Linked DNA regions of Homo sapiens: all the other regions are linked to region 3. The links come from fine-mapping of genetic effects on gene expression. A gene starts in region 3. Each other region holds a variant in brackets. All regions are shown on one strand. Distances are from middle to middle.

What was found. PIP is the estimated chance that this variant, and not a neighbour inherited with it, causes the effect.
Region 1: its variant is fine-mapped to the expression of SPATA13 in whole blood (TOPMed, PIP above 0.99).
Region 2: its variant is fine-mapped to the expression of SPATA13 in whole blood (TOPMed, PIP above 0.99).
Region 4: its variant is fine-mapped to the expression of SPATA13 in whole blood (TOPMed, PIP above 0.99).
Region 5: its variant is fine-mapped to the expression of SPATA13 in whole blood (INTERVAL, PIP above 0.99).
Region 6: its variant is fine-mapped to the expression of SPATA13 in whole blood (TOPMed, PIP above 0.99).
Region 7: its variant is fine-mapped to the expression of SPATA13 in cerebellar hemisphere (GTEx, PIP above 0.99).

Annotation. Positions count from the first base shown.
Region 1 is chr13:24,305,073-24,309,138 of GRCh38, reverse strand. It overlaps SPATA13 (spermatogenesis associated 13), which reads right to left. Exons shown (of 13, transcript NM_001166271.3): 13 at 2,070-4,066. It also overlaps a transcript of C1QTNF9 not described here. Among named protein-coding and RNA genes, the nearest start is that of C1QTNF9, 2.5 kb to the left of the region's middle. The variant C/T (reference allele first, on the strand shown) is at 2,093.
Region 2 is chr13:24,222,066-24,226,131 of GRCh38, reverse strand. SPATA13 (spermatogenesis associated 13) reads right to left here. Exons shown (of 13, transcript NM_001166271.3): 2 at 1,550-3,313. The coding sequence starts at 3,202. Among named protein-coding and RNA genes, the nearest start is that of SPATA13-AS1, 30 kb to the left of the region's middle. RefSeq lists enhancers at 302-1,158, 1,933-2,002, 2,203-2,312, 2,017-2,873. The variant G/A (reference allele first, on the strand shown) is at 1,937.
Region 3 is chr13:24,158,531-24,162,596 of GRCh38, reverse strand. SPATA13 (spermatogenesis associated 13) reads right to left here and starts at 1,877. Exons shown (of 13, transcript NM_001166271.3): 1 at 1,665-1,877. It overlaps MIR2276 (microRNA 2276), which reads right to left and starts at 181; the gene lies at 93-181. RefSeq lists a silencer at 1,927-1,986.
Region 4 is chr13:24,289,199-24,293,264 of GRCh38, reverse strand. It overlaps SPATA13 (spermatogenesis associated 13), which reads right to left. Exons shown (of 13, transcript NM_001166271.3): 9 at 2,381-2,613. Among named protein-coding and RNA genes, the nearest start is that of C1QTNF9, 18 kb to the left of the region's middle. The variant G/A (reference allele first, on the strand shown) is at 1,718.
Region 5 is chr13:24,277,228-24,281,293 of GRCh38, reverse strand. The region is part of intron 4 of SPATA13 (spermatogenesis associated 13); the gene reads right to left. Among named protein-coding and RNA genes, the nearest start is that of SPATA13-AS1, 25 kb to the right of the region's middle. RefSeq lists a silencer at 235-314. The variant G/C (reference allele first, on the strand shown) is at 1,787.
Region 6 is chr13:24,184,565-24,188,630 of GRCh38, reverse strand. The region is part of intron 1 of SPATA13 (spermatogenesis associated 13); the gene reads right to left. Among named protein-coding and RNA genes, the nearest start is that of MIR2276, 24 kb to the right of the region's middle. The variant A/G (reference allele first, on the strand shown) is at 1,803.
Region 7 is chr13:24,213,311-24,217,376 of GRCh38, reverse strand. The region is part of intron 1 of SPATA13 (spermatogenesis associated 13); the gene reads right to left. Among named protein-coding and RNA genes, the nearest start is that of SPATA13-AS1, 39 kb to the left of the region's middle. The variant T/A (reference allele first, on the strand shown) is at 1,650.

The sequences.
Region 1 (4,066 bases), 150 kb before region 3:
TGGGGTAATTACGGGCAACAGGACAAAACTGAAGGCTGCTAACTGTTAAGTGGCTGGGTCTCATTTGGATCCCGGACCATTAGAATTCCTACCGCTTAATTAGATTTTCAGATGGGTGTGTCGTAATGCCTTACGAGTTTAGGCATTTGTGTAGGTAAGGATTCAGTGTCCATTCCCCTCTCACAATCACACACTCCACCTACCACGGAGAACGCGGTGCAACCATTTGTTCAATGCCAGTAATCATGGACTCACTTTCCTCGTGTCTAGTAGTAACATTTATCTAAAACTTACAGTAGCTTCCAGAGGACAGAGGAGCCCAGCCCGGTTTCCCGAGATGCCGCAGTGCACGCAGCAGGAGCAGAGGCCACGCACAGAGCAGGAGGCCACGCAAAGAGCAGGAGCAGAGGCCGGGTGTACGGGTGGGTGCGGGGCTCACCCCAGCTCGGCGGCGAGGCCACGCACAGAGCAGGAGCCCACGCACAGAGCAGGGGCAGAGGCCGAGTGTACGGGTGGGTGCGGGGCTCGCCCCAGCTCGGCGGCGCCGACTCCCTCTCCCGCCTTACTCGCCCCCGTGCCTCAATTTCCCCGTCAGTGCAGCGGACATGACAATGCCGTGGTCCCAGGTGGGCGGCGGGATCTAATTAGTCGGTGTAAAATGAGTGAGATCTGGCTTCTCCCCGGCACCCCGCAGCCTGCCCCCACTCTTGGTGGCTAAACGCAAGGAGCCCCTGAGTCCCAGCTCCGCTGGGGGCTCTCAGCAGTTCTGGCCGGGCTCCCTCTTGCTCGCGTGGCTGGTCTCTGACCCCTGCACCGCAGGCGGCCCCGACGGAACGCGCGACGGGTCCCCGACCTCCTGCTGGGGACACCCGTCTCGCTGCCCGGCCCTTCCCCGCTTCCCGCGCCTCTGCGCCCCGGAGAGCTCTGAGACAGGACCACCTGGGCAGCCTGCCGGCCTGGACCTCTGCCTCAGAGCCAGCGACGGAAGCACAGCCTCGGGCCTCCACCGGCCACGCGCTCCCCATTCCGGGCTCTCCCACGTCTGCACACTCCAGCCCAGCCACGCGGAGAGGCTTCCAGAACCTGCCCTGCGGCCCCGCTTTGCTGACACCCCACTCACTCCGTGGGTTCTTCCTCCCGCCAGGACCCTGCCGGGGCCTGGGGTCCGTGGGAAGCCGGCTCAGGAATCAGGATCCTGGCCTCCTGCTTACAGGGAAAAGGGCTCCATCCTCCTGGTGTTTCCCGACTGCAGCGCCTCCAGCCTCCGGGGCTGCTGCGGCCCAGGTTCAGCTGGGTTCACTCCAGCTTTGCTGGTCTCGCCAGTGCAGAGTAGGGGCGCGCTTATGACCTAACGGTCATCTCCCCACAACTCTCCTGGAAGAAAATGCCACCCCCATCTCTTTCACTGTGTCCTATACATGGAGCCACTATGCTCTGCCCTATGGGTTCTGGGGCTCGCCCCCTCCCCACCCTAGCGACCGCCCTTCCCCAGTGCAGCCCAAGGTTGGGAGGAGCAGATCACTTTGGGAAGCAGGTGGATATTAAGAGTAAACAAAAAGTGGGCAGTAGCCACTTGGCAGCCTTCATAGGAATCCTTTTCTGATTACAGCCACAGCAAACAATGGGCTGTTGACTTAGCTCTTCTGAGCTGTTGGAGAAGGAAATTCTAATCTACCCACCCGCAAAGGGCGAGTGAGCAGGGCCACTAGCACAGCTCCTGTGGCAGGGCCTAGCCTTCAGGGGCAGTCAGAGGGCACAGTCTGTTGTTCTGTCTCCTCTCCATGATCCCTAGCAAAAGCGGCCCCGCCCCACTGCTCCCTTCCGCATCCCTCTTACTCCAACCACTGACGTTTCTCAAGCCAGGGTGCCCTCCGAGGTTGCCCTCGGAGCCCCCCTTCTCCCACGCCTACCCAGTGGTTACATGGAGCTCCTGAATGGATGAGTTGTTGCCACTGAGAAGTCTAGGGACATCAGGGCAGCAGAGGAGCTACAAATCCCAGAAGCCCCCGCACCCAGCTCTCCACTTCCTCCTTTTAAAGGCTGCTACTCAAATGCATCATCAGAACGAGTTTGGCAAATGAATTTTAATATA[C/T]AAAACAACAAATATAGATTCACAGCATTTAAAAAAATCATTCAAATAACATTGTAAATAATTTTTTTTTACAAAAAACTTCAACAAAAATACATATCAAGTTACATCAATCTTGTACACTATACTTTGGCTGTCAACAGCAAATTCCTCAGTTCAGAAGTCCCATTCTTTGACCTATACAGATGACACATCATCTTGAAGTTAATGAGCTAAAATGTTGCCCAAAGCCTTGCAAAGTAGGTTAGCGAGTCATACAGAATGGACACTAATATTTACAAAAAAAGATTAGAAAGATTAAAAGTATTTTCTAAATATAAAATGTCAGTGCCTGTGAGATAACTAAAGGCAACAATGTAAAGTATGTTGTAGCTAAGTAAACTTGTATCAAATATTTAAGCTTTTGCTTTTTTTTTCAAGATCAGTCATGTTCCACTTATTTTTCCAAAGCCTTTTGAAATCCACTTTCATTGCATCCTGAAAACAATGAGACTTTAATAGAACAATTTGCAGATTAGGTTATTATGGGAAAGCTGGGTCTGCTAGTAGTTTCACCTAGTTGACTTGGGTCCTCCATTTCTGGCCTGTGAGCTGGTGAAAGGACATTTATTCATACTTCTTGACACTCCTTTGAGGGACAATTCTAAGTTTCTTCTCTCCCTGACAAGTAATAGTGCAGAAATACTCCCCCTAACTCCAGGTAATTATGCTGTTCTATTCTGACTGGGACACCAAGTTGATCTGCATGAAGGAGTATCAGCAATTTGGCTTGCAGAGATTTCCACCTGATAAAATGCTGGTTCAGCTGGCTTTTACAAAATACTTATATTGTGAACCAAATTTTGAATTAAATGCACTTTGCTTTATGTCTAGATAACAGTCATGTAGGATGGGGGGATTTTCTGAATAAGAATGGCATCGGTTTTCATCTAGGCTAGGTATAAAAAGGCACAATATTCAGAAATAGTGTTTGATGGTGGTGAAATGTTTTCAACTACAAAATCAGATCTACAGTGGGAAACAAAAATCAGATCTAATGAAAAGAAACCATGTGGCTGGTATCCCAGGGAAGCTCCAGCATACTACTGCTGCCCTCTTTCTAGTCCGCAGGCCAAAGACAAAGAAATCTACTGCTCCAGGATTCTGCAAACATTCAATTTTATGATTTTATAATTGCTTTTAATCTACGGCAGGGTTTTTATATGTTTTAGGTATGATCACAATTGAAAAGGTTGCTTTTGACCCAAGGCTACTTCAATTATCTTCTAACAAAGTCGACCAATTCTGAAACGTGAAGAATGGAATAGGTGAAATTCATCAAAATGTTATGTCATCTTTTCTTTTCTTGGCCCATCTATAATATTATGTAAAGTAAGGTTAAAAAGAGAGAAAGGCATAGAGGCGGGAGAGAGCAAGATTCCCAATGAAATTCATACACTGTCCATGGAGGAGGCTCTCTGTTCCCTTTCTTTCCAAGTGGAACACGTGACTCAAATCAGGAAGGAAGTTTGGCAAATGGAAGATGAGAATACTTGAGCCTTCCATTCTTGAAGAACTCAGGCATGTGGTAATAAAACCCAAGCCAGACATGCAGATTTTCAAGAAGTCAAAGGATGTTCTAGCCTTTTAAAAATGTTAGCAGTTTTCAAAATCACCTGAACATCCAAGTAGGATCCACCCAGGAGAGATCTTTAATGGAGTGACCCTCACACTCTATAAAACTGACAGGGGCAACGAATTGAACCTGACTTAACAAAAACACATCCTGGTATTCATAAGTCTCTGTTAGGAAGTCCGTGGAGGTAGGTGGGAGCCGGAAGTTAGGGCTCAGCTGGAAAATAAATTAGGACTGGCCACAAAATGCAAACCATTTCTTCATTACCCATGAATAAATATTAGGAAATGGAAGTCCTAAGAATGACTCTTAAACTGAATCCTCACTGAAAATGTAACACAAGCAAATGATTCTCTTTACTT
Region 2 (4,066 bases), 64 kb before region 3:
TTTTTCCAGGCCTGCCCATGGACCAATCAGCATGCACTTCCTCCATTCTGAGCCTATAAAAACCCCCAGACTCCGCCACTCATTGGGACTACCTGCCTGCAGAGAGGAGCAACACATTCCAGGTCTCCTATGGGCTGAGAGTTGTTCAGTCACCCAATAAAGCTCTTCTCAGCCTTGCTCACCCTCCGTTTGTCCACGTAACTTCATTTTTCCTGGATGTGGAACCTGCCCAATGGTGGGAGCGAAAGGAGCTGTAACACTTTCCCGGATGGCTCGCCCAGCTGCAGGTGGGAGTTAAAGGGGCTGCAACAAATTCCTGGCCAGCTCACCGAGCTACAGACAGTGACATGCCCCTGGACTGCAGGCGTGAAGAGTGGCAACCCTTCTGGGGGCCCAAACCTTGGGATTCCCTCAACTAAAGTTGTAACACTATAACCCTCCCAATTTCCACCAGCACCAGGCAGCTGCAACATGCAACAGGAAGCAGTGGTGGGGCTAGACCAGCCCAAGAGCTGCATGCTGGAGTGGGGCAGTGGGACTGAAGGAGATATAACACAAATGGGGTGAAACATACTCCCAGAAACAAGCCCCCCTGCTTGCTGTAATGCAGGTGATGAGAAGAAGAGAGCTGTGGCCCTTCTGGGAGCCCAGATGAGAACCAGGCTGTGACAGGCCGTAACACCCTCTTTGGGGCTCTGTGATTCCTGGTATCTCTGAGCTTTCACTCGTCACCACGTTCCCCTCGTCCACACGCTGGTGCCTGCAGCGGAAGCCAGCTACAGTGCATCTGGTCCAGCCACAGCCTTGCATGGAGCCAGCACCTGTGCCGGCACCTGGAGCTGCCTGCCCTGCTGCAACAGCTGACATGCCTGGCTGTGTGCAGAGGCTGGACTCCATGCTCACTCACTCACACACCCCTCGCTGCTCCATTCCTGGTTTGCCCTTGGCAGGCATGGGATCTGGGCTGGCAGTGCAAGCCGAATGCAGCCTGCTGGGCAGAATGGGTGGAACGAGGCTAGTGGGCACGAGCAAAACTCAAGCAGAGGCACTGCCAGCCCACAGAGGTTTCCAGCTGGTCAAGTGACACCCACAGGTGCTGTGACATTAGGACAGGTAATAGTCTCTTAACAGAAAGAATTTCACTTATATGTACTTTGTGGGAAAGGTTACAGAAACAGCTTAAAATACAAAGAAGAAAGATATGAGTCAGAGCTGCATGGAGCAGAAGACAGTTTGTTTACAACTTATTTTTTTCCCCCAGAATCTAGTACCTGGTACATGTTCAATAAACATCTTTTGAATGAAAGGTGTGGCAAATGTCATCTCAATGAATCTCGTACATTGTCAATTTATTTCAAAGGAGATAGAGATTACTTCTGAACTTGGTAAACAGCAACTTGACAACTCCCATTCCCACTAATACTGTAAGGGCAACAAGGTCAGCAGAGGGCCACTGACCTTGACAGGTTAGGGACCAAGGGCAACACCTGTGCAAGCTCCCTTCCCGCAGGAGGGTCGCCCACATGAGGGACCTCGCCGCTGCCCTTACCTCCTCCTTCTCCTTTTCTTCTGGGCCGGCTGCCACACCAATGTTCACCAGAAGGTCCTTGCTGCCCTCATCACCATGTGTGGCTTCCAGGGGATCCTGCAAGGACACAGGCCCTGGCTCTCTCTGAGCAGGCTCTTCTGCCCTTCCTTCACTTTCCTCTGAATTCGCGGACAGGGCACTGTGATTGCTGTGACAGCTGGCACTTCCTGCCCCGGGGCTCTGGGGGCTCTGAGGGCTCTGGGGCTTGGGTGTGGTGGGCCTTAGAGGGGTGGGAGGCTGCTCAGGGTCAAATGTCAACTGGCTGCCAGCGTTTGGGTCACAGGAGTCTTTGCTCAACACATCCTGGACAATCGGGCTTGGCAAAGAGCTGCAAGTGCAGGAACTGTC[G/A]CTTTCCACCGCCCAGGAACTTTTGGTTTCAAGAGGAAATACGGCAGTGTCAGCGTCTAGGTGGGGCCCCTTAGAGGTGGCTGAGCCGAAACCGGGGGCCACGGTGCAGGTTGCAGTGGTCCCATGCATGACCGCCCCGCCCCGCCTGCTGTCCTGCTCAGTGCTCCTGGAGACGCGGCGGGAGTAGTCGTCATGCAGCCGGCTGTGTGCCTGAAGTCTCAGGCTGGCCTCTCCAGGGGATGGGGCCCCACTCCTAGGACTCTCCCTCCTCCAGGCAGCCTCAGTCACATTGCTCACAAGTTTGAAGACTCTGTCAAAGTCCTTGGCCCTTATCGGGCTCCTCCAGCGTTTGGTCCTTCCTGACCCAAGCTTTTGGGAGTCAGTGGAGGAACTGCTCAGGGTCCTCTGTGGTACCCGTGCGTCATGGGCCGTCCTGAGGTCTGCAAGATTGGAGGTGGACTTCCGCTTAAAGGAGCTCTTCTTCAGAAAGGCAAGATTGTCCGTGCTCTTGCTCCTCCTGTAGCCCATGCTGTTGTTTTCAGGGTCCCTCACGAGAATCTCACACACGGCGGGCACCTGGCCAGTGGCTATCGTGGGTGTCGCATGGTTCTGGGGCGCATCCAGCAGGCAGATGCGGCCCAGGCCGTAGGCTCTGCGGAGGCTGCGGGAGCGGTGTGTGCTCCGCTGGAAGGCATCGTCCGTGTCCTCGAGGTCGGAGCCATCCAATGTGCCCCACTCTGCTGGCCTGAGGGCACCACATGCTGGTCCCGGTGCTAAGGGGGAGCCCCTGCTTGCCTGGGCTCCTGGGACAGCGCCATTTGGGATGGACTTTCCCAGGCCATGCTCCGAAGCCTCTCCCTTTGAACAGGCATTTGACCCCTCTCGGCTCTGAATTCCTTTCAGGACTGAGGACTTCAGTTTCTTAAAGGATCCCATTTTCCGGAAGGAGGCGAGGGTGTTCCATGTGGAGGAGTTCCCCACCAGGACCATGGAGTGGGGCCGCTCGGGGTGGGCACCCGTCCTCTTCCGACTGGTGGAAAAGAGGCGCACAAGCTTGGCTGGGCTGAGTTTGGCTTCCTGGGTGTCCGTGTCGCCACCAGGGCTGCAGCCACAGACTCCATTTCCACACGCAAGGGAGGTCACCATCTTGGCGTCTTTCAGGTCCGAGCCTGCACAGGGGGCTGCGGGGCCTGGCCCGAGGCCGTTTGGGGCAGTGGTCATGTTCTCCAGGCAGGGTGCCCAGGGCCGCACGGCAGCCTGGGTCATGGCCACGGGCACTGCCGAGTCCGCAGACCGCAGCTCCAGGCCTTCATCTCCAGGAATGCCGTCCTGGCACTCACACCTGCCTTGCACATCGGGCTCCTGGGTGGCCACGGGCTGCAGTGAAAGACAAAGCAGGCGGTTTAGCCATTTCCCACGCAGTAGCCCCTCTGCTCACAGAAGAAGAGGCACGCTCCAGCACAGGGCTGGTCAGATGAAAGCTACTTCAAACTCAATTAAAACTGTACATTTCCCCTCCATTCACTTCATAAGTTGAAGGAAAGATGCAAATATACATCCCTGGACAGAGAAGGGTAATTATGGGCTGTGCCACGGACATGAAGGTAAACTCCTGAGCTCACTGGAACCTGTGTAGGTGAGACTAGGAAAAAAACCGCTGGAATGAAAATATCTAGGTATCATTCAACACTATCTTTTCTTCTTATTTGAAATGGAAAAAAAAATAATTAGGAAATACCAAAAGAAAACCTCACAACGATTTCAAAAGCATGACATTAAAATGGCAGCCTGTGTTGAATCCAACATACCGAATACTCAAACCAAGTGCTGGCACACGCAGGAATAAGCATGAGGAGCAGAGATGGAGCCCCACATGCTGGCAGCTGCCTCCTGTCCAGGAGGGCTGAGACGCCCAAACACTAACTGAGAGCCTCACAGGGCCACCTAGACACAGGCGGGAAGGACTCAGCAAGGACATGCCAGGGCAGCCTCTGAGAAGGAAACACATTGGTGGGGGTCTTTTTCCAACTGGCCATACAGCAGAGAGAAGTGAGGATGCTGCTGAAGTATATTAGAAATTCAGGGTTGGGTGCAGTGGCTCACGCCTGTAATCCTAACACTTTGGGAGTC
Region 3 (4,066 bases):
ACTATGTAGAGGATACGACTTCAATAAGAAAACAATCAGTCAGAAGCAGTGGCAGAAGGGAGGGTCCTGAAATCCAGAGTCCTCCTGCAGAGATGCAGCTGCCACTCCTCGCCTCTGACACTTGCAGACATTCGGAGAGAAAGCCGTCTGCAAGGTGACAGAGGGCGGACTGGAAGAACACAAGGAACCCAGGGATGCTGATGGAGCATGGAAAACCGCAGCAGAAGGCACTGAGGCAAGGTGTGCCCTCCAGGCGGGGCAGGCTGTGGCTGGGCAGAGCGCCTGCCAGGGAGAAGTAGGGCAAAGGGAAGAAAGCACCTGTGGGAGAAACATGGGGAAACAAGGAAGAAACCTGCATATGCACGGGAGCACAAATAAGGAAGGAGATGGGAGAACTGGGTGGAGGCAGATGGCAAACGTGGGGGCCAAGGGAGGTAGATGAGAATTAGGATATGGGATAATAAGACAAAGCCACATGAAACTCTAAAGTGCGGGAGGAGGGCAGAGAACAGGGAGGGTGCATGACAGGCACCCCGAGAATAATGCAGTGAGGAAGTTTGCAAGACGGGGGAGGGGGACATTAGGAAAAAAGGAGAATTTGTTGGGAAAGGTGGAAAAAGAAAAGGAGTGAGATTTCTCCGCCTGTTAGCAAGGGGAATAAAGGAGAGCAAATCGCTGGGTGACCAGGAAAGGTTCACAGAGAAGAAAACACGAGGCAGCAAAAACCGAAGGTGGGGACAGAGAAAATGCTGGCAGGGGGAGGTGCATAATATAAGGCTATGGGAAGCCATGGGAACAAGAGCTGAATAAATTCACAGTATTATTCTATTTATCCACATCCCTATGCAATGCTGGGAAGCAAATGACCCACAGGGTTTTGTTTGCTTGCTTTGGTTTGGTTTTCCTGCACTTGGAGGGAGGGGAAATTTGCTCAAGCTCTGTAACCTTGCAGTCAGATGGGTGGCCCAGCCCAAGTCACCCGAGCTCCCCCTGACGCTGGCAGCAGCGCGGGCTTCTACCTGCCTGGGGCTGGAGTACCAATTCCCCCACCTCCTGCACAGAATGGGACCAAACCAACTCCGCCAATGCATTCCCTGCAGTCCACAGACGATGGGCACCGGGTCCCAAAATCTTTCCCCTGGGACGAGACTCCGCTGGTACCAAGAGAAACTTGCTTTCTAAACTAAGCTCTCCAACCGCATCGCTCCGGGTCCCCGGAGGCACCAGCCACGCCACCCGATGGAGCAGAGCGTTACAGGGCTCCGCCGCGCCAGGCTCCCCAGACTCTGCCACCCCCACGGCCGCCCCTGTAGGCCAGGCCCCGCGAGCTGGGAGCGCGGGTGAAGTTACAAGGCGACCTCCCTGCAGGCTTCCGGCTGGAAACGGCCTTTTGCGAGAACACCACGTGCATGTCCTCCCAAAAGCGATGGTGCCGGGTGGCCCAGAGGGCGCAGAGCCACCGCCGGGCAGGGAGCGGGCGCACGGACCTAACAGGTGAGCACCCGGTAGCCTCCACCGGCGGGGGAAGCAGAGGCCAAGCAGCTGGGAGCTGGACATCCCGAAGCCCCGAGGCAGTCCACTGGGACTCAAATCCTCCCGATATTCTACCTAACAGCCCATGCCCGCGCCCGCCCGGCAGAGCCGCGCGCCCGAAGCCGTCTTACCTCCTGCGGCGCCTCTTGGCGGAGCCTACAAAGTCAGCGTGTCCAACACGTCCCTGCCCTCAGAGCCACCTCCGGTGCCGGCGGAGCCCCGAGGTCGCCGCACTCTCGGAGGAGCCTGGGATCCAGTGCGCGCCCTCGGAGCTAGCGACCGGCAGGGCGATCGCGGGAGAAAGCGCAACGCACACTCTCCTCCCGCGCCGCGGCAGCACACTCAGCCAAGCCACGCCCCAGCCCCGCTCCCCACCAGGCCACGCCCCCAGCCCGGCTCTTCCCCCCGCCCCATATCAGGCCACGCCCCCGGTTAGCTCACTCCCTCAGGCCACACCCTCGGCCACGCCCCCACACTACCAACCACAGCCGGGGACCCCACCCATCAAAAACAGTTCCCCGGCCAGGCGCAGTGGCTCTTGCCTGTAATCCTAGCACTTTTGGAGGCCGAGGTGGGCGGATCACCTGAGGTCAGGAATTTGAGAGCAGCTTGGCCAACATGGTGAAACCCCGTCTCTAATAAAAATAAAAATTAACCGGGCGTGGTGACAGGCGCCTGTGATCCCAGCTACTCAGGAGGCTAAGGCAGGAGAATCACTTGAACCCGAGAGGCGGAGGTTGCAGTGTGCCGAGATCGCGCCACTGCACTCCAACCTGGAGGACACAGCCAGACTCCGTTTTTTAAAAAAAGAAACAAACAAAAATAGTTCCCTCAGCCACCAGCCAGCCCCCACCCCCCAGGGCGGGAAGAGGAGTCTCATCTCCGGGGCAACCGTGCCCCACTGCCCACTGCCTGGGCCAGAAGTTCACTCCCTGTGAAAGGAAAACGCAGGGTAGGGATTTTTAAACCTACATGTTTCCCAGGGCCTGGGGCAAGTCTTGAGTAGACTGTTGCAGTAAACCGACTCAAAGGCCTATCACCTTTCTTGTGAGGCTCAAGGCCTAATCATTAATTGACATGAAAACCACAGAAGAGAAGCAAACCCTTCTGTGCTGGGATCTGTGCCCCAGTGCTCCATGTTCCCTGATAGGCAGCTAATGGAATTCATAAAATAAATGCATGCTTTCTACCAGTGTAGTTTTTTAGATGATTCATTTAGTGGCCAGCACTATTATTTATAAATGTCTATTGTCTTTTATAATCAAAGAACAATACCCACAATCTGTAAAATAAAAAACAAAAATTATATTACCCAATGAAAAGTGAAAATTAATTTTATGTATGTTTTTTAAAATATTGAAAAAACTCTGTATGACATTATAATGGTGGCTTCATGTCATTATGCATTTCTCAAAACTCACAGAATGAACAGCATGCGGCGTGAGCCTCCTGTAAGTAATGGACTTAGTTCATCTTAATGTAACAACATGGGCCCATCAATCATAACACATGTGCCACTCGAATGTAAGATGTCAGTACAAGCAGCTGTGTGTGGAGGGAGGGGCGTGAGGGAGTACATCAGAACTCCGTGTACTTTCCATTCCTGTTTTCTAAACCTAAAACTGCTCTAAAAATAGTCTATTAATTAAAGCACACTCCAAGATTAATGATAATTATCTGTGGGTGGTGGAAATATGGGCAAATTTTATTTAATTCTTTGAATTGTTATTGAAATTACCCCAAGTTTTAACAATGACCATGTATTTTTAAAGCTGAAAAAATATAAAAACCAAACCTTGGAAAATTTTAGAAACATAGTATGTGAGGCTAATATCATTGACTGTTCCATTTTATTTCTACTCTATAAAAAATCTGCACAAAGCACTCACAAATGCTAAAATGAAATCTATGTTAGTATTATTTAAAAAAAAATATCACGGTCTAAATTGAGGGTTTTTTTATTATCTCTTTAGAATTAGCACAAATCTGAGGAGCAGATTTTGATTTTTCTTTTAAAAAAATTGTGTTTCAAAAGGTTATTTCTGCCTACTTGGAAACCACTATTAACATTTACATGCAATACTTTTTATAGTGAAGAAAGCACTATATTTGAAACTATGTCCTTGGGAAACAGGCCTGGCCCTCAGATGAATGGATTTCTGTGGAGTGATACCAACTAGACCTGAAGACCCCCGCATCCTTGAGGCCCTGTACAAGCCCTGGGCGAGTGCTGGACCTTGCTGAATCTCAGCTTCCTCGTCAGTGAGCCGGTGACAGTGGGACCTCACTCTGCATTGGGTGGAGAATTAAAACTTTAGCCCATGTAAGACTCTTACTATCTATCAACTTAGCACATACAGGTGCTTGCTGATTGTTTGTTTGTGAGTTTTAAAAAATATTTTTTTCAGGGTTTCAGTGAAAACCTTTTGAGCGCCTGGGATAAAAGATATGTCTGGGTTCAGATTACAAATCTATTAGAGGAAGGCAGGATGGCTCAAGAGAAAATTCACTGATCTGACATGAAGAGGCGGCG
Region 4 (4,066 bases), 130 kb before region 3:
TTGTGGCTCTCTTGACTTCCCTGTTTTTTTTTTTCCACTGAACTTTTCTGATTTCTCCATCAGAAAAAGAAAAAAATATATAGCTCTCTCTTCTTTTATCTATTTCAATGAACTCCTTTTTCTAATTCCTTTAGTCCTAACTCTTTAGCTAACACCCATATCTAGTGTCTATTGTTCAGTGATCTGCTCTTATTCTTTACTTTCCAATCTAATTGTAAGAAGGCTCTCCCCACACCCTCGCCTTTTTTTTTTTTTTTTTTTTTTTTTTTGAGACAAAGTCTCACTCTGTCACCCAGGCTGGAGTGCAATGGTGCGATCTCGGCTCATTGCAACCTCCGCCTCCTGGGTTCAAGCGATTTTCGTGCCTCAGCCTCCCAATTAGCTAGGATTACAGGTGCCCGCCACCATGCCCAGCTAATTTTTGCATTTTAGTAGAGATGGGATTTCACCATTTGGCCAGGCTGGTCTCAAACTCCTGACCTCATGTGATCCACCCGTTTCGGCCTCCCAAAATGGTGGGATTACAGACGTGAGCCATGGCGCCCGGCCAGAAGTTTCCTTTTTTAAGTCTGTCTCTCCACAGGAGTTCAGAGGCAGAGAGGACAAAATAATGATTCACTCTCCACTCCCTGCAGGAAGATATTTAGCTGCTGAAACCCAGAACTGTTGTGGTTTGCCATAGAAATTTCCTCCTGGTACAATCCCTTCCCTCTTCCTCTTCTCATTAGGACCCTTTGAGATGACCCTCTCCAGAGCTGCAGGTGCAGTTAAAGACTTTGTGTCAGGGGCATGGACCCTGTTTCGATTCTCATCTAAAAGAGTCAGCTTTAGCCTAGACCCCTGCGCCCCTGGGTAGCCTGGCTTGGAGCCTGGCACATAGCAGTTGCCCTATGACTATCCTGTCCCTGCTGGCCAGGTGAGAACTCAGAATTAGCCAAGCACTGCTACCTTGAGGTACCCAACAGCTGGGCTGTGCTGTGATGACATTTTCCCATGGCATGGAAAATGGGCATGCACATTCCAATGCTGAATGGGTGACATGCCTAATGTATAACCACACAAAGGCTTCTGTGCATGCACGAAATGATGGTTGGCTATTAAGGAAACAAAGGGTAACTTTTGGCTCCCCCAGAAGAGATCATATAGCTAGGGAACAAGGGCGTGAGAAGAATCCAGAAACAACCAAGGCAGATAATAAAGACAGAGAGAGGCCGGGCGCGGTGGCTCACGCCTGTAATCCCAGCACTTTGGGAGGCCGAGGCGGGTGGATCATGAGGTCAGGAGATCGAGACCATCCTGGCTAACAAGGTGAAACCCCGTCTCTACTAAAAATACAAAAAATTAGCCGGGCGCGGTGGCGGGCGCCTGTAGTCCCAGCTACTCGGGAGGCTGAGGCAGGAGAATGGCGTGAACCCGGGAAGCGGAGCTTGCAGTGAGCCGAGATTGCGCCACTGCAGTCCGCAGTCCGGCCTGGGCGACAGAACGAGACTCCGTCTCAAAAAAAAAAATAAAAAAATAAAAAAATAAAGACAGAGAGAGAGTGTATTTTGTTGCTTGTTGTTCAGGAGAAGCCGAGATCCAAACAACAGAAGTGTGAGTAACAAGAAGAGCTTAGTCAGGCACCAAGGAAGCTCGAAGGGAGATGCAGCATTCAGGTAAGCATGGAAGGAAGCCCTGTGCTCCCAGCAGGAGGGAACAGGGAGAAGACCAGAGAGTC[G/A]GCACCCCGGTGGGTAGGGAACGGCTCAGGGCCCAGCAGGTGCCCAATGCCCTGGTCTTCTCAGCTGCCCCATATGGGTTTGCACCCCTGACAATCCACACCCTTTTACAGTTCAAGCTTGTGTGTGCCCTCACCCCTTCTAAATAGAGAAGGGGTTGCTAAATAGAGACTGCTTAACAACAAGTAACTTTAGGTAAGCCACTAGTAAGTAATGTTTCTGCCATAAAGAATCCTGCTCTGAGCCGAGCTGCTGTACGTCAACCTCAAGGGTACAGGAGAGAACCAGAGTTATGGCTTTCCATTCACACTGGTCTGTTTCCCTCAGAAACCGTCTTTACTAACTACTGAGTACTCAAAGACATGTTTATAAAATACAGGTAAGCAACATAACAATACAACAAAAGCCGCCATGCACTCGTGGCACAGCTCACGAATGGCCCTTGTGTCTTCATAGCTCTAGGACTGGATATCCTGGAGGCTCTTCAACCACTCTATTTCAATAGTTAATTGCACACATTCTAAACAACCTGAAAACTTCTCCCATGGAGCTCCCAAAGTGTTAAGGCTGACACTGAAGCCCACCTATCACTGCCTGGAGTTAAGAGCTGCCTACGGGTAATGGCAGCAGTGCTCTCACCTGTGCCCCTTACCCATGCCCCTCACCCGTGTTCCTGTGTGGTATACTTGAGCAGCTCGGCCAGCTGCAGCGGGTATTTGCAGATCTTCTGCACTGGTGTGAGCAGGAACCCGTCGATGGCGATGTCAATCATCTGCTGCAGCAGGCGGCAGGCTTCAAAGAAATGTCTGTACTTGCCCTGCTTCATGAGGTTGGCGAGCTCCAGGCAGGCGCCCGGGTGGTTGTTGCAGTACTCGGAATAGATGGCAAAGCCCTCTTGCTGGGAAGGAAAAGTACAGCTTCGTCAGCTTCTGGGGTGCCTCTGGGACATGACAAAGACAGGCATCATCCCAGCCCTCTCTAAGGGACACTCCTAGAAAGGAGGAAGATGGACTACTGCAAGAAGGACAGGGCATGAAATCCGCTGGCACCCAAGCTGCCCTGCCATGGTTTCCGCAAGCGTTATCTGGCCGGCGAGAAGGGGTGCTTCAGCAGGCTCCTGAGGGGGTTGGGGATGAGGCTGCCCTGGAACTCAGCACCCTGGTCTCTTTCTAGCCTGCCTCACGCTCATCCTGGAAGGTGGGGAGCAGGGCCTCTAACGTCCCCCTCCCACAAATTTTTTCAACTCGCTGAAAACCATGTATGCAGTTTTAATCGTTGCTTATTCTTTGTGGTTTACAACTAGTCTTGTCAGGTTTTCCTCAAAAATGCCCATTTCAACATACCTCTCTTCCCAATTCTCTGCCGTCACCCTGGCTGGGCCCGCCAAGACCCCTTCCCTGGTGGCAGCAGTACTCCCCTGTCCTCACTGTGAGACTTACCTTCCTCATGCCACCACCTGGCCTCCAGCCTGTCCTAAGCTGGCTCCTGCAGGAACCTTCTGCACAGGCCACACAAGGAGGCCTGTGACAATGTCCCAGATATGCCCACGTCACACATGGGGCCCAGCCTCCAGCTGACTAACTTAACACAAAAACATTATGCCCAGCCACTTAAAATCTATCTGCCCCAGAGGACTCTAGACAGCTACTGAGCCCAGCACCCAGGAAGTGAAGGTGTGGTGAGGCTGTCATTGTTATTATTATTACTCTTACTGTTCCCTAGCTATTTGGGCTGGGACTAAAATCTTCCTCTGAAATCCTTTAGCGGTTAAGTAGTAATAGTCAATCATAAGTTAAAAAATGATAAATGCATGTTATCACAGGAAGGTTCTGAGGCAGTTACAGTATCACAACCATGCGTCCTGGAGCCGCATGCCCGGGTCTGCCTTCACAGATGCCTCTTACTGGTATGTGGTCTTGGGTTACTTACTCTCTGGGCCTTAGTTTCCTCATCTAGAAAGTGAGAGATAATCATATCTACCTCATAGCAATACACAAGCTAATATAAGAAAACCCTGGAAACAGTGCCTGAAATGTAATAGACACTTCCTGGATATTATTAGGAAGGACTCCATAGTTCTTATGGCATAACCCTTAGAAATTTTTAAAAAGTAATTACTCCAAATGTAACCCCCTAATTCCAGACTACATAAAAGGATTTTGAAAAAATGAATTTGGGACATTTAGACAAGATTAACTATACAGATTTTGTTTATATGATAAGCATATAAGATAGAAGAAACATCTCCTTTCTATGGAAGATTCATCTAGCAAACAAACAATAAAACAAAAGAGACTCCTGTTTTCTGTGGAGATGCACTTCAAAATTATGTAAGCAGATGTTATTAATAA
Region 5 (4,066 bases), 120 kb before region 3:
GGAAAAAGTGAAAGTGAGCTGTCTAAGAGACCAAGAGACGGGGTTGGAGGGGGAGGAGTAAATTCCCGGGCCTAAGCACAAAGCCAAGAGGCAGAAGAAAGCGCTCCACAGCCTTGGTCTTGCCTTCTGGGCCCTAGCTTTCTTACCTGCTCATTAAAGGAGAGGGGACGGTTGCCAGGGGCATGGCAGGGCCTGGCGCCTCAGGAGAAGGGAGTGCACCCTGGGAGCACGGGTGGGTGGGCAGCAGGGAGCCAGCTATGCATGTGTGTACCCATGTCTGTCTGGCTGGGGGTGTGGCTGGAGGCCTTGAGAAAGCCAGACATGTGCTGTCTGAGAAACACGGGAGCCTGAACAACGCATGGTGACTGTTTCGTTTTAAATGTAACTTCTGCTTCCTATGCTAGGCCAGGGTGCGTACAGTCGGAGAGCAGGAGGTCACCTAGTCTAGTATGCTTTGCTGGTGTGTGAGTTTGGGGGTGGGTTGGGGGATGTCTTGAGGAAGCACATCATTTTTTTCATGCATGAGTGTGTTTTAGACTCCAAGGGAAACAACACTGAAGACAAAGGCCTTCTCTAACCCTGGAGCGGCTGCCCAGACCACGAGGCCCAAGAACTGTGCTGCTTACTGGCCGAGATATCCTGATGCTCCTGGGTGAGGAGCATATACACAAAGTCTGGGTGTCTAATGCCTAAAGCAGCAGGAATCTTCCAATTTTAGCAACCACTGATCTGGCACTGTCTGGTACCAATAGCATTTTTCCTTATCAATTTAAACCGTGGTTGAGCCAAAAAAAAAAAAAAAGTGCATCTCAGTAAAATAAAGGCATTGGGGCTTCCCACCCACAGCACAGCTCTGAAAAATGACGCTTTCTCCTCGAAGAACTGAACAGTGTTTTCCAAGGGAGAATTCTTTACCATGATCTAGCTATTGCTGTGAAAATCAGTAAAGAAAGAAAAAAAGCTGGTTGTAATCATGTATAAATTCACAATTAACAGGAGTCTATTGAAAAGTTAGACCTTTACAGGAGGTACCAGGAGAAAAACCTCTGGACAGAGACACGGACTGGAAATACTGACTGCTCTCTGAGTTCTTCATAAACACTTAGCAAAACAGCTCTACCCGGGGTCGTGGTACGCACCTGTAGTCCCAGCTACTTGGGAGGCTGAGGTGGGAGGATGGCTTGAGCCTAGGATTTCCAGTCTGCAATGAGCTCTGATTGTACCACCAGACTCCAGCCTGGGCAACAGAGCAAGACTTTGCCTCAAAAGAAAAAAGTAAAGAAAAAAGACAACTCTGGCTGAGGTTAATCACAAGAGAGGTTTCAACAGCAACTGTTTCAACATCATGGATTAGTAGTTAGCGACACTGCGGAAGCAAGATGGCTTGAAGCGCTCATGGGTGGGCTGACTCAGTCCTGGCCAGGAGATGGGGGGCAGAGGCCAGGGGCAAGAGACTTGAAACATGGACGAGGGAAAGTCATGGAGCCTGGAGTGAAAATTCCTGGGTGAATGTCCTTGCTTCACTAACTTCCTAACTAAATGACCTTGGTGCAAGTCACTTCAGCTCTTTGAGCTTCAGTTTTCCCATCTGTAAAGCAGGCATTAGCCTGTATGTTTTATCTATTCAGAGGTTATTCTTCCACCTCTCACATCCCACGACCCACTCACTGGCAGATCTGATTCAAGTTCCTGAAAGTGTCCAGGATCTGGCTACCTCTTACCCCTCTGCCACCACTCAAGCCTGGGTCCCCTCCCACCACTTAAGCCTGGGTTCCCATCCAGCTTC[G/C]GGCTCCCTCCAGCAGCCCCTCCTGGTCTCCCTGCTGCCACCCCTGCCCCCGGCAGGCCATAGCTGCCAGAGCGATGCTGCCAAACCATTCCTAGACTGGATTGTGTCACTCCTCTGCTCAGAATCATCCACAGGGGAGACAGCCAAAGTTCTTGAGACCTCTCCCCAGATACACTGTGCCTCCCACCCCTCTCCAACCAATGGGCTCTTGGCTGCAAAGACCGCAGGCACTCCTTGCCCAGGGCCGCTGCTCCGTGTGCCTGACAGCCCTCCCCAGGTACACACACACTGGCTCCCTCTCTCACCTTCACCATACCACTCAAAACCACAACCCTCACTCTCACTCCACTGTCTCCCCTGGTTTAGTTTTCTCCATAGCATTTGTCACCGTCTATAATGTATTCTGTTCACTATCCAGAATGTAAGCTCCAGAAAGGCAGTAATTCTTGTCTGCTTTATTCTTAACTGTGTTCCTGCCTGGCATACATGGGAGGCAGGGAAGGAAGGAAGGAAGGGAGGGAGGGAGGGAGGGAGGGAAGGAGGGAAGGAAGGAAGGAGGGAAGGAAGGAAGGAAGGAAAGAGGGAAGGAAGGAAGGAAGGAAGGAAGGAAGGAAGGAAGGAAGGAAGGAAGGAAAGAAAAACAGCATGTGGACTTCATGCAAGGCTTTGGGGTCAGATGAACTTGCCTTCAAATGATAGCGATGCACATTTTTTTTCTTTTCTATATTTTTCTTTTTTGAGTATGAGTCCTTGGTCAAGTTTCTTTCTTTGTTTTTTCACCTGTTGAATGTGGATGATAAAACCCATCTCTCAGGGTTGTTTATACATTCTGAACAAGTACTTGTTATTGGTGTGCTTTGAGCCTCAAGTGGAATGATGATACATGAAAGCACCCTGTAAATTGAAAAACAGTATAGAATTGCAAGATGTGGCTGGGCGTGGTAGCTCATGCTTGTAATCCCAGCACTTTGGAAGACTGAGGCAGGAGGATCCCTTGAGCCCAGGAGTTTGGGACCAAGCTGGGCAACATAATAAGACCCATCTCTATAAATTAAAAAAAAATTAAAAATAGAATTGCAAGATGTTATTTTATCAGGTGCCTATAATGTGCTAGGCACTGATTTAAGCTGTGGAGATGAACCGGCTCATATAATCCTCATGACAATGCTACATGGGAGGTACTGTCAGTTGTCCCCACTTGCAGATGAGGAAACTCAAGTCCCAATAACACACAGCTGTGTGCAGCAGGCTCAGGCCATCTAACTCTTACCCACTGGGCAGAACTGTCTCCTCCAGCAGTAGCTGTTACTTGTAATAAGACAAAATGATATTAAAAACAGTGTTAGTATCCAAATCTGTGTGTTTTGCTCCCATTCTGGAGAGCAGCCGTATGTCCTGCCCTCCGTTCCCTCACTAACCCTTCCTTCCAACTACCAATCCCTGCTCCCAGTGGGGCCTGTCAAGGACCTGATTCCATTTTCTGGTTGTATCCTTTTCCCTTCACCACCCTAACTACTTTCACGATTTTAAAGTCCCTTAAAGTTAATGACTCCTGTGTTCCTGTCCCATAATTCAAGTGTGTTTTATGGAGTGGGATTTCTCAGTGTCTGATGTCTAGACAGGAAGAATCTTTGTGCTATGCTTTGATGCTTCGTCCAGGCCTGGTGGTTTTCTATGATTCCCCACGCTTACTGTCTAGGTCGCTTACCATCTTAAAGGACAGGACAGACTTAAAGGAAAGGACAGACGTTTGATTTTTGTCTTCCCAGCCCCTAGCATAGTACCTGGCATACAGAAGGCACTCAGTATGTGATTTCCAATTGAACTGCAAATTGCTGATGTGGAAACTGAGGTTCCAAGAAGTTGAGTCATTTATCAGGGCTATACAGGGGCTGGGTCCGAACCAGGATAGGAACCCAGGTCTCTCTGACTCCCACCCCTGTGCTCATCTGAGATTCTAGCTAGAAAAATCCCTCAGCCAGTCTTCATGACTCTGTTTCCCTCCCCAAGCCATCCTATATATTACTTCCAAGGTGAACTTCTTCTTTTTTTTTTTTTTTTTTTGAGACGGAGTCTTGCTCTGTTGCCCAGGCTGGAGTGCAATGGCGCGATCTCGGGTCACTGCAAGCTCCGCCTCCTAGGTTCACGCCATTCTCCTGCCTCAGCCTCCCGAGTAGCTGGGACTACAGGCGCCCGCCACCACACCCAGCTAATTTTTTGTATTTTTAGTAGAGACGTGGTTTCACCATGTTAGCCAGGATGGTCTCGATCTCCTGACCT
Region 6 (4,066 bases), 26 kb before region 3:
TGCTGCTTCACCCTGCACTTATGTTACAGAGATGGCTTCTTTCCTTAAACCTCAAGAACCCGCATCTACTAGCTTCAAACCTTTCTTCACCTCTCTCAGTCTTCACAGAATTAAAGAGAGTTAGAGACTTGCTTTGGATTAGACTTTGGATTAGCCTTTGGCTTAAGGAAATATTATGGCCAGTTTGATCTCTATCTGGACCACTAAAACTTTCTCAATATCAGCGATAAGGCTGTTTCACTTTCTTAATATTTGTGTGTTCACTGGAGTATCACTTTTTTTTTTTATTATTTTTTTTGGAGATGGAGTCTCGCTCTGTTGCCCAGGCTGGAGTGCAGTGACATGATCTCGACTCACTGCCTCCCAGGTTCAACTGATTCTCCTGCCTCAGCCTCCCGAGTAGCTGGGACTACAGGTGCATGTTGCCACGCCCAGCTAATTTTTTGTATTTCAGTAGAGATGGGGTTTCACCATGTTGCCCAGGCTGGTCTCGAACTCCTGAGCTCAGGCAATCTGCCCGCCTTGGCCTCCCAAAGAGCTAGGGTTACAGGCATGAGCCACCACGCCTGGCCTGGAGTATCACTTTTAATTTCCTTCAAGAACTTTTCCTTTGCATTCATGACTTAGCTAACCATGTGGCACAAGAGGCCAAGCTTTGAGCCTATCTTGGCTTTCAACATGCCTTCCTCACTAAGCTTAATCATTCCTAGCTTTGGATTTAAAATAGAGATGGGCGACTCTTCCTTTCACTTGAACACTTAGAGGTTATTGTAGAGTTATTAATTGGCCTACTTTCAATATTGTTCTGTCTCAGGAAATAAGAAGGCCTGAGAAGAGGCAGAGAGACTGGGAGTGGCCAGCAGTGAAGCAGTCAAAACATATACAACATTTATTGATCAAGTTTACCATCTTATATAGGTGTAGTTCATGAAGCCCAAAACAATTACAATAGTAACATCAAAGATCTCTGATCATAGATTACCATAACAGATATAATAATTTAAATGCTTGAAATGTTTTGAGAATTATCAAAAAGTAACAGACAAGATGTACGCACATGCTATTGTAACAATGAATGGCGCCAATAGACTTGCTCCACACAGGGTTGCCACAAACCCTCAGTTTGTAAAAGGTGCAATTTCCGCAAAATGCAATAAAGCTAGGCAGAATAAAACGTAAGCCGGTCGCTGTTTTCCACATCCCTGTCAAACTTCTATAAATAGAAGGGTGGAGAGAAAGAGGGCAATGATTGTGTGTTAACAAAGCCACTGAGAACTGAAGATAGCTAGGACTACTCAGAAAAGAGGCCAGACAACCAGAAGCGTAGTTTCTTCATCTACCTCCAGTCATGACTCATGTGTCACTCTGAGGCAGGGATGACTGCAACAGAAAAGCAGATCTTGCTGTGACTATTTCTTTCTCCTTTCTTTGGATAGCTAAAGAATTTTGGTAGCCAAAATTCATGGGTTCTGAAATTCCTAGAATTATACAAGCAGTGAGAGTAGAGCATCTGAAAACAGACGACATTGCTTTGAAAAAGGTAGTTTTGTGCTAGGCTGTCATAACATGCAACCTGGTGTTTGCTGGAACATCCTCCTCAAGGAAAAGGATTAAGAGAAGTCTCTTTGTTGGTTCTTCTCAGTTTGCATAAATCAACACCTACACATCTGACCCATAATGAGGCTCTTTTTAACTAAACAGCATGTTAAGTGTGACTTTACAGAAATGAAATCAACTTCTTAATAAATTCACCAATTGGAATTTCATGAGAATATGCAAAAGCCAAACACACTAGGATTTCC[A/G]ATCCTATTTCCAGCTCTTCCTTCCCTTTTCTCTTCAACTTGATCAACCGCCTCAATAGCGTTGTTGCCCATTTCAAACAAGTTGCCCTGTGGAGCACTTCCCTCTCAAACCTGTATTTTCTGTGCAGAAAATTAATGTTCCCGTAACAATGTTATGCTTTGCTTTGGCCTCCTGACACTGAAGGTTAAGAAACTCTGAAAGGGAACTAACTTCTCTTTAGCTCTTGGGCCTAGCACAGTGGCATTACTTAGACCCTGGGGACAACCTAAAATAATTTCAGCTTTAATCTTGACTCGTAGAACATTGTTGATGTCCTATTTTTATTCGTTTCTGGGATTTAGGAAACTCTGTCATCAGTTTTTCTGGACTATGGCTGATGTTCCCTCTTGGTTTGAAGACTATTATCAGTCGCCAGCAAACATACAACACGTGAGTTTGTGTATCCCTGACATATCGTAAACCTCTGACCTTAGTCATACTATTAATCCCTAATTGCTGGTGTAGCATCCAATTTTCCTGTAGCTATTCCCAAACCTTCTAATTTTCTACTTTTGCTTTGCAATTAACCCTACATCATGTAAGCAGGTGAAGCAAAGAGGACTTCTTCTTTAGGTTCCCCTGTGAACCGTAACATTCCCGTTTCCTCACTGGTAGTTGTGATGGTTCATCTTATGTGTCAGCGTGGCTAGGACTGTGATGCCCAGTTATTTGGCCAAACACCAGTCTGGATGTTGCTGTGAAGATCTTTTCTAGATGTGATTGACAGTTAAATCAGTAGATTTTGAGTGAGGCAGATGATGTGGATGGGCCTCCTCTAATCAGTTGAAGGCCTTAAAAGACTGAAGTCTCCAGAAAAGAAAGAAATTTGGCCTTAAGATTGCCATAAGATTCAAGCCTAAAACATCAACGCCTGCCAGACACTCCAGCCTACTGACCTACCCTGCTTATTTTGAACTTGCCAGGCTTCACAATCACATGAGCCAATTCCTTAATCTCTCTCTCTCTCTCTGTCTCTTGATGTATGTGTGTGCGCACACACACACATTCTTTTAGTTCTTTCTCTGGAGAACCCTGACTAACACAGGGCTCATGAAAAAAAAAAACTGCATCTATTTGTATGTGTTCTAAGTTAAATCCAGGAATTGAGAAACCTTCAATTATGATGTTTCATATGATGTTTAAAACACGATGCCTATTACGTTAACACCAATTATTTCCTTAAGATTTCTGAAATGAGACCATATAAAGGACTTATCAATAGTCATTATGTCAAAATTACAGAAGGCTATTAATGGATTTAAAATTAAACGAGTAGTTATTTCCAGAGGTGATATAAAAGCCTTAATTTGGCCATTTAAAATCTTGGTTCTTTCAGCCCTCTTAAAAGGTTTATTTCTCATTAAGTGGATCTCCAGATAGCTTAAGAATAAATTACAGTCTTGAATCAGGAAAATCTAAATTATAGGGCCCTAAAAATCATCCTCATGGCAGTACTTCACTAAGAAATAAAATCCCTTGTGGAAAAAATTTCTTTATAAAGCAAGCAGTAAAACTTCACTGAGTGCCTATCATGTGTGATGGGCACTATTACACACAAAAGCATTTATTGTATGGTCTTTTGTAACAAACTAGCATCTACTCAGCAGCACAAAAATACGTCACAGGGGAACTTCAGGGCTTATGATTAGGAAAGGTGGCACACAAGGAGCTACAGAAAGCGGGGGAAATGCCCGAACTGGCAACAAATGCAGTGACAGAGCAGGTCCCCTGGAGAAGCAAAACACAATGCTCGATACACGTGCCTTTCAAAGACGGCCCCAGTGCCCACTTTCAAAGGCACCCGCACTTTCCTGAGGAATGACCCATACGGCTGCTAGGACTCTGGAAGAGTAAAGAAGTGGTCATTTTCCGTAGACTCCGTCGCTTGACTCAACTCAGAACAACAGGAAAACAATGGATTTTCCTTTTACACTGCCTTTCATCAAAATAACTAAAGAAGTATTTTATTAAAAAAAAAATCTGGACCCATCCTGCCTTTTCAAGTCTTCATAATGTCACCAGAGAGGTCATACCATGGTGGACACGATTTTATATTAGGTCCAGTCACTTGGACCTTCACAACTGAGATCATGAAATTAGCAGAGCGTTGAACTTTGTCCTGCACAGAAAACAAAACTCCTCACTGTGATTAGTGAGTTCATGCTGTTGCCCAGCATTAAGTTAATGGATAACAACAATTACACATCAGAGAGAAAAAAAATCA
Region 7 (4,066 bases), 55 kb before region 3:
TGCTTTGTAGGATGTCTAGCAGCAACTGTGGCCACTGATGCTATTAGGAAGAAGAATTGTAATAAAAAGAGAGAGAGTGCTGAAAACCATGAATGTGCTACCAATTAGTTTCAGAATAGTTTTTCTGAAATTACTGGAAAAAAGTTTTAAGAGACTCAATCTTGCTATGTTGCCCGGGGTGGCCTCAAATTCTTAGACTCAAGTGATCCTCTCACCTCATCCTCCAAGTAGCTGGGATAACAGGTACATACCATGGCCAGTTAAAACCACTGAAATTTATCATTTCCTTTTTTTTGTTTTTGTTTTTGTTTGTTTGTTTTGTTTTGAGACAGAGTCTTGCTCTGTCATCCAGGCTGGAGTACACAGTGGCACAATTTCAGCACACTGCAACCTCGCCTCCCACACTCAAGTGATCCTCCCACCTCAGCCTCCCAAGTATCTGAGATTGCAGGCACATGCCACTATGCCCCACTAATTTTTGTATTTTTAGTAGAGACAGGGTTTCACTATGTTGGCCAGGTTGGTCTCAAACTCCTGACCTCAAATCGTCCTCCCACCTTGGCCTCCCAAAGTATTGGGATTACAGGCATGAGCCACCATGCCCAGCCATAATTTACAACATTCATAAAGAGAAAGCATCCAAGGTCCTAATTTCAGAGATGAAGTTATTCCCCAGGCCTAATGCCAGACACCGTCCTTCCTCTTCCTAGCCCCAATATACATACCTTAGTAAAAGAAAGAAGCCCCCTTACCCTTTGATCTGGTACCTTCAGGGTCTCTCTGTGTAAGGAGTAGGTAAGATGCTTCAAAAGAGCATCTGTAGCTCTGGCGTCACTTAAGTATTCAATCACTGAAGTTCAATGTTTGTGAATTGAAAGTATATGGACAAATGCAACTAGAATAAGCGTATCTTTTGGAAAGGTGTCAATTTCATACAAGCGTGTGATTGTCTTGGCTTGCCTTATGGGGGTTACTGGGCTAAAACACATTCCTGTGGGTGAGAATGGTGTTTCCCCAATAGGGATTCATATTTGCTTTGTCAATCCTCTGGGGTGATGGGGTGCAGAAAACAAGGATTTGCAAAGGCAGGTCTTAGACCACAAAGGAAAATCTTCCTTCTGTGTCTAAAGTTGCAGGTCAGGCTGGTGTAGTGAGAGATGAAAGGGCAGGTAGGTCTGAGCTTGTGCGAAAGATGCTGGCATCCTCCATAATGCCCCTCCCTGCCTGCGTCCCCAACCTCTGCACAGTGACAGCCTCTGAGCTCCTCTTCCTCCAATCTCACAGCAACCTTGGAAGGCTCCAGGGGAGCTGTTGCCAGTCACAGCCCTCAGCCCTGAAGACTGCCCTGCGTCTTGACTTCCTACAGCCATGGCCTGTCCACCACCTTTCTGGTGGTAAACAAGATTGCAGCAGTAACAATGAAGTTCCCGGTTAGGACTACCTCATGCCTGCAACCCATGCCAAAACTGATGTCACCACAAGACTGCACCTCCCCCACATTTACCATTCAGGGCAATGAAAATTTTCCAGATGGATGGCCCTAATCCTGAAGGCACTGTGATGGTCACTGGAGCAAAAACAATGTCTCTGCTTGGCAGAGGCAGACTGGCCCAAATCTGGAGCTGTGTTCACTGAGTTCACAGGCTAAG[T/A]CACCCAACAGTGCAGTCAGCACAGAATACCCCTAAAGGGAATGATGTAGCTTTTACATCCACAGCTTAATTAGACATACTTAATAACTGTGTGTAAGAGCATATATGTGTGTTGCATTTTATTTTTGCTGCATTTATTTTAGTGTTCAATTTTTTTGTCTTTGCATAAAATGTGTTTCCAGGCAGAGCCCCAATTTATAGCTTTGCATTCTGAGGAAATGAGATTAATTTTCAACTCAGCTTCCACCCAGCAGCCTATCAGGTCTTAAGGTAGGGGATGTCCCCACAGACCATTTTGCCACTGTTGAGGACAGAGGCCCAGAAGAGGCCCTTTCCCTGTGCTGTGCAATCAAGTGTCTCATCCTCTCAAATTAGTTTTACACATTAAAGCAGTTGCTGAAATGCCTTCTGCTTCTAATTTAAACTGTCTTCTAATTGAACTGAGATTTGCATATTGTTTTCTTGCAAGCCCTCCCTGCCTCTTGGCACACATCTCCTCATTTAGGACATGCACGACAGTCATGTGACATGATGCCACCAATGAACCAAGCCAGAGGTGACCAGCTACTCCTCCTGAACAGGGGTCCCTGGAGCACACACCCCATCTCTCAGAGGCGATCTGTGAGACTTTGTTAGAGGTGGAGGTTCTCATTGCCAGCGCGTCCTCAGGGAGACGCTGTGCTCGAACATAACCAACACACAGAATTCAGGAATACTCTGGTATAATATCCCAGGGACATGGCTCCTTTGACACAGCTTAATAATGTTTTAAATATGTCAGATGCTCAGTGGGGACTGAAATGAAAGCAAGTACTATATTCTGACTTTTGCGAGAAGTTCAAAACCAGCTGAGTTTAGTTGCTAGGAAAACTAAAGAATCACTAATACTTAAATATGTTGAATCTCAAAAAGGAAAGCGGAGATGCAAGATGAGACAAGGTTATGTTACCCTTTACAAGGCAGAAGCAAATGGGAAGTGAGAGTCCCCATGCAACTAAGGAGGGAAACAGATGTGCTGCTGACAACACAGATGCAGGGAACCCAGTGATGACTGGACAACACCAGGGAGCATCCCTCTCAGCAAGACTGAGGGACAGGTGAAGGGGAGGAAGGGCAGCAGCTGAGGCTAAGAATTTGGGGTCAGGGTTCTTTGCTTTGAATTGCTTTGTTATGTGACCTGTGCTAGTCACACAACATCCCTGAACCCAGCTTTCTCCATGGGATCCTAAAATTTCTTTTAGAGCAGTTTCTTTTACTTTTAGAGAAGCACATGCATTGTAAAGAGAAAATTCTCATCAAAATATTAATTATTCTCATGGCGTGACACCTTTCTTGGTAACATGTAAAGTTGATAGTTATAGGTCATTGCTAATAGGGAATGGTATTCTGGGTCAAAATTTCCAGATCCAAAGACGTGAAGCAATCTGTTGAAAAGTCAATGGATTTAAGTTTATTGTACATGCATCTGGCCTTAGGTAAAAGTGTCTATGGAGGTGCAGAAGATGTACCACATGTGCAGGTGGCTGCTTTGGGGTTGATCTGCTTTGTGATTCACAGATGGAAGCACTGCCTACTCCCTGCAGTCATCCTGCTGCCTCAAAGGTCAAGGCCAGATAGAAGTGATGTGCCACCAGGCTCAGTCAGAGATTGGCAAAGATCACCTGAATGCGGATCTGGAGAAGGTGATCGCTTTTCCCAAAGGATGCCTCTGAAACCAAACATATATAAAATGCCATTATTTCATTTCAAAATTAGCTGTATCTTTTCTCCATGAGTATGGATCATACATGCCTTCAGATTCCTTCAACCCTGACTCAGATAATAAATACCAGAAGGTAAAATGTTCTGTAAACTGTTGAACAAGTAGTATTCTAAATATCAATTTTTAAGTCACTTGTTCAGACTTGAAGACACATTTTTTCCTATAAGATTCTCGTATCATCTTCCCCTTCCCACTTAATTTATAATGTAAACAAATTATGTTAAAAATATTAATAGGATCGCTATATTAAAGTTGTTCATTAGTAATATACTAAAATAAATGAAGTCATACTTCTATGAAAAGATGAACTGGATCTTTGACTTAGAAGCTTGAATGGTAGCAGAATGAGAAAAAGGACAGGGAGAAGGGTGTTGTCCTCTTTCTAGGATAAGAAAGACCCTGGCCGGGCATGGTGGCTCACATCTCTAATCCCAGCACTTTGGGAGGCCGAGGCAGATGGATCATGAGGTCGGGAGTTTGAGAGCAGCCTGGCCAATATGGCGAAACCCTGTCTCTACTAAAAATATAAAAATTAGCCGGGCATGGTGGCCCACACCTGTAGTCCCAGCTACTCGTGAGGCTGAGGCAAAAGAATTGCTTGAACCCAGGAGGTGGAGGTTACAGTGAGCCAAGATTATGCCACTGCACTCCAGCC